Linked DNA regions of Homo sapiens: region 2 is linked to region 1. The links come from fine-mapping of genetic effects on gene expression. Tissue or cell type: nucleus accumbens. Region 1 holds a variant in brackets; the other region holds the start of a gene. All regions are shown on one strand. Distances are between the middles of the regions.

Region 1 (2,765 bases):
ATGAGGTATCATCTCACCTCAGTTAAAATGCCTTTTATCCCAAAGACAGGCAATAACCAGTGCTGGTAAGGATGTGGAGAAAAGGGAACCTTCATACACTGTTGGTGGGAATGTAAATTAGTACAACCCCTATGAAGAACAGTTTGGAGGTTCCTCAAAAGACTAAAAACAGAACTATCATCAGATCCAGCAATCCCATTGCTGGGTATACACCCAAAAGAAAGGAAATCAGGATACTGAAGAGATATATGCATTCCCATGTTTGTTGCAGCCCTGTTCACAATAGCTAAAATTTGGAAGCAACCTAAGTGTCTATCAACAGATGAATGAATAAAGAAAATATGATACATATACACAACAGAATACTATTCAGCCATAAAAAAGAATGAGATCCTGTCATCCGCAACAACATGGATGGAACTGGAGATCATTATAAGTGAAATAAGGCACAGAAAGACAAACGACAAACATTGCATGTTTTCACTTATTTGTGGGAGCTAAAAATCAAAACAATTGAACTCATGGAGATAGCAGAAGCATGCTTATGAGAGGCTGGGAAGGGTAGTGGGAGGGTGGGGATGGTTAATGGGTACAAAAATATAGTTAGAAAGAATGAATAAGACCTAGTGTTTGACAGCACAACAGGGTGACTACAGTCAATAATAATTTAATTATATATTTAAAAATAACGAGTATCATTGGATTGTTTGTCACACTTGAAGGAGTGGATACCCCATTTTACATGATGTGATTATTGCACATTTGTATGCTTGTATCACAGTATTTCATGTATCCCATAAATATATACACCTACTGTGTACCCACAGAAATTGAAGTGTGTGTGATAGTGACGGTCTCTGAAGGTGGGAAGTGAGACGGTAGGCAGACTTACTTTTTAACTATATGCCTTTTTATGCGTTTTGCATTTTTTACCCTGTGCATGTACTATCTCTTTAAAAATAGTTTTTAGATAATTATAAATAAAAAATTAAGAGAAGGCCTTATGAGAGACATTGTAAAGACTCAAATATAAAGCAGCTCCTTCTTTTCTGAGGGATAACTTTAAAGAGAAACCACATACTTCCTATGAAGACATATACAGTATATACTGGAACCTGTAGAGGGAGGTGCTAGGTGAGATTATACGTGCACCAGCATCAGCTATGATACGTATGCAGAAATATATTGAGTTAGATGACTTTGGT[G/A]CAGAAGTTTGCTTATTTGGAGTTAATTTACAACCAACGAAAAAAATAGGGTTTTCCCAGGTTCAGAGAGCAATTCAGGCTCGCAGTTCTGGTTTGGGTTAAGTAAACAGAACTCACCCTTTCTGCTGGCTTTGAGTGATCAAGTTCAATACGTGTACTTTGGATGTTCTTAAAGTACTGTGTCATCAACCTGCTTTGACAACTTTACATTCACTCTACATTTGTAGATCAGGAACTTTGACCTGAATTGAGGTCATGCTAGCCCTAGTTTTCTTTCTGCATATCCAGAAAATTAACCATGATAATGCTCTTAAGATCTGATTTTCTTACTCAAAAATTAAATTAAAATGCTTTCAAATTTTAAGTTTTTCCCCTATATGTCAAGCTTGCAAATAATGATCCAGTAGTATTTCTGAGATGTGCGTGCTTATACACATTCCAGAAATATCCTGCTTTTACAAAACTAATCTCATCTCTTTTCTTTTCTTCCGAAAGGATATGATCTGGATTCAATGTTCTCACTGTTCTAATAATATGCATTTCCATCATACAACATCTTGAAAAATATTCCAATCTTTTATGTTTGATATTTATAACCAACACAAACCCCTGGTTTTCTAAAAACATGGTACAAGAACAGAGATGGGTTGGTTCTCTTCTTTTAGAACACACAATGTCCTATCAAAAACCAACTCCATCTGATCTAAGGAGCAGCAGGTGGAGAAATCACATACTACACAGCGGCTTTAAATGTCAGAGTCTGGCTCTTGCATTCTTTAAGATGAATTGCTTTTAAGTTCTCTGGCACCTTTGCTGGCATGGAAGTTAGTAAAATTTCCAAAAACAAAATCAGATCAGTGGAATTAGGTTAAAAGTTGTTTTATGTGAAAGGATGTAGAATAAGTTAGGGCAGATTAAACAAAGCAGATGATAAAAGAAGACTTTGAGAAAAATCTATAATTTGAAATTGAACTTTGAACTAGACATGTAGATGTAGATCTAATCTGGCCAACTTTGTAACACACTGAAACTCAAGTCAATTGCAATCGTTTTATCTCTATATTTGAATGACTGTCATGTGTGCCTGTCACTAATTTAGACTATCTCCAGTATTCAAAGTACTGTTAGTGTTGTGCAGACAAATTGTCTGCTGCTGATTTCACTTATTAGTGCAACTTGCACAACACCAGAAGAAGCCGGTGCAGCCACCCATGTTTACCTGGCTCTTGTTACCTTGAGGGGGGTGTGAAGACAGCTTCAGTCACCATCCTAGCAACCCTTCCCAATAGACGAACCCTCGCAAGGGAGCTCAGGGTAGCAGAGATCCCCATTCCTCCAAGATAAAAACATGACAACAATTTCCCAGTGTCTAAAGTACAGATTTGACACGAATTATCTCTTTCTTTTATAATTAACTTCTTCCTCAATAATTATTTTTATCAATTATGTCTTTTTTTTTTTATTTTTGAGTCAGAATCTGGCTCTGTGGCCTAGGCTGGACTGCAGTGGTGCAATCTTGGTTCACTGTAAACTCCGCCTCTTGGGTTCAAGCAATTCTCT
Region 2 (2,765 bases), 920 kb after region 1:
AAAAGGTATCTGAGGTAAGAATTAGAAAGTCTGGGCCGGACACAGTGGCTCACGCCTGTAATTCCAGCACTTTCGGAGGCCGAAGCAGGCATTATCACCTGAGGTCAGGAGTTTGAGACTAGCCTGGTCAACATGGTGAAACCCCATCACTACTGAAAATACAAAATATTAGCTGGTGTGGTAGTGGGCGCCTGTAATCCCAGCTACCTGGGAGGCTGAGGCAGGAGAAATGCTTGAACCTGGGAGGCTAAGGTTGCAGGGAGTCTTGCGCTACTGCACACCAGCCTGGGTGACAGAGCTAGACTGTCTCAAAAAAAAAAAAAAAAAAAAAAAAAGTCTGGGTTAAAATGGCTCTACCATCAAATATGATAGAACTATATGAAATTATTATTTTAAAAAGTCAAAACCAGTCAAATACTGGCAGTTTCATGTCTCAATCTTAGGTGTATGACCTCAATTAATTCTGATGCAAGTCACTTCTCTTCACCTTAGTTTTATCAAGTCGATAAAGTTCAATAGCTGACACGTGCCATTTACTTATAACAACTCCCACAGTAAAGGTGTTTGTGTCCTTTACTTCATCATTGCTAGTATCTTCTCCAATTCCTTCCAGGCCAACGTTAAATTAAAACCTTAACTACCTAATTCCCAAAAACTAATTTTACCAACTTTTAAATAGAACAAACGCTTTGCAATTTTACCCCACAATGCCCAAATGAATACTACTACACAAAAACCTGCAATTACTTTCAAAACAAGAATTCGTAAGTTCATGTCTCGAATTCCTATAATAAACTAAAACTTGACGGGAGCAATGGACTTACACTTTTTCCAGCACGATTCCTTTTGCATGAGAAGCACCTCCAAAAGGGTTGGCCTTTAGGGCTGTGCCCAAATGAGCTTTCTTATACTGTTTATCATGCCACTTCTGGTCTCGTCGGTGACTACGGAGCTTCCTAGCAGTACGAAGTCCACGACACTTGCCTAAAAATTAAATATTTTAGTTCTTCCGTAAAAACACGCCATCTACGTGTTTCCCATCTTCTAAGACACTCGCCTCACCTGGAATAAACCCTTAAGCCGATTGGCTCTCGTACTATTTATTGGCCTGTGGGCCAAACATTTGGCCTTCAAGTTGCCCTGAACCGACTAATAAACGTTCGAAGAGGGCTCCGGAGAATGTGTTCTCCCGAAGGACGAGGCCCCGCTCGAATGCCCGGGAGGAAGCGCTGGCCTCCCTGCGTCCCTCGGTACCCCGACCTCGGCGGCCTCCACGCCTCATGGGCCCCTTCCGCGCCGGACCACGTGCCTCCTGGAGCGGCGCTTCCCCGGCCCTCCCCCATGGAGCCTCTCCATGGCATCCCCCGCCCTACTCTATTCGCATCCGCCCGCCCGTCCCCAAGACCCCAAGTCCCGCTTGCAGCGCCCTTAAACCGGCCACAACAGCTCACCCATCCTGTCGGCGCCACGGGCCTGAGCGAAAGAGAGAAGCACCGCAGGAAGGAGCCACAAGCCACCGCGAGCAAGCCCCGCCCAGCCAAGGACCCCGCGCCGCTGTCTGCGCCGCGCCTGACCCGAGGCTGGGGTCTCTCCTTTGAAAACGACGCGTTTGCATCACTTTCCTGAGCCAGAATCTGCGTCTTATTTAATTTGCAAGAAATTCAGAGATATCTAATTTGCATGGTTTTTTTTCCCCCTTTTTCTTTTGAATGCTGGAGACCGGAGGAACATGGACTACCAATCCCAGAATGCGTTTTATGGGACCCGCTCACCGCGCAGGCGCTCTTGCCCAAGCCACTGAGAGCGGGACGCGGGGCTAGGTCAGAGTAGGAAGGAGTCGCTGAGCTGAATCTTTGTGGAGTGGAGTGGGGCGAGAGTCCTCCGAGTAGTCTGGAAAATTAGACTTCTGAGCCTTAATTCATACTTATAAGCAGCTAGTAAATTGTAAAATATAGTGAAGCAATGTAGTGTAGTAACTAAAACCCCAAGCTTTGGAGCCAGATTGGGCCTTTAACCCTAAAGTTGCCGTTTATTTTGACTGGCGAGTCATTTACTTATAGATTTATTTATTTTTATTTTTATTTTTTTCTGAGACAGGGTCTCACTCTGTCTTCTAGGCTGTTGTGCAGTGGTGCGATCTTGGCTCACTACAACCTCCGCCTCCCGGGTTCAAGCGATTGTCCCACCTCAGCCTCCTGAGTAGCTGGGATTACAGGCTTCCACCATCACGCCTGGCTGATGTTTGTATTTTCAGTAGAGAGGGGGTTTCACCATGTTGGCCAGGCTGGTGTCGATCTCCTGACCTCGAGTGATCCGCCCGCCTCGGCCTCCCAATGTGCTGGGATTACAGGCGTGAGCCACCGCGCCTGGCCATTTAATTAACTCTTTAATACTGTTTCTCCTGTAAGATGAACTAGCTGTGAGAGGTTTCTGGGATATTGGTTCACTCAGCAAGGATGTTTAAAAATGCCTTCTATGTGCCAGACGCTGTTGTAGGTACCGGGAATATGGCGGTTAAATTAAGAGGGTGAAGGTTTCTGCTCTGATACAGTTTATATTCTAAATGTGAGAGGACAGACCAGTTAGATAGATGTAAATTAAATAATTAAATAGATGATTTTTACATACTGTAGAGCTATAGAGAAAATATAGCTGGATGGGTGATAGTGACTTGGGGATGGGGGTGGCTACTCTGGATAGGGTAGTTTAAGGTGACATCTCTGTGCAGATGTAGAATGGGCTAGTGCTTTCTAAGAACTGAAAGA

Evidence for each region. PIP is the estimated chance that this variant, and not a neighbour inherited with it, causes the effect.
Region 2: RPS23 starts here. The variant in region 1 is fine-mapped to the expression of RPS23 in nucleus accumbens (GTEx, PIP 0.95).

Annotation. Positions count from the first base shown.
Region 1 is chr5:81,352,050-81,354,814 of GRCh38, forward strand. All of the region lies in intron 5 of ACOT12 (acyl-CoA thioesterase 12), which reads right to left. Among named protein-coding and RNA genes, the nearest start is that of ACOT12, 41 kb to the right of the region's middle. The variant G/A (reference allele first, on the strand shown) is at 1,206.
Region 2 is chr5:82,276,869-82,279,633 of GRCh38, forward strand. RPS23 (ribosomal protein S23) reads right to left here and starts at 1,486. Exons shown (of 4, transcript NM_001025.5): 1 at 1,452-1,486; 2 at 825-984. The coding sequence starts at 1,455. It also overlaps the pseudogene ATP6AP1L. RefSeq lists an enhancer at 1,477-1,806.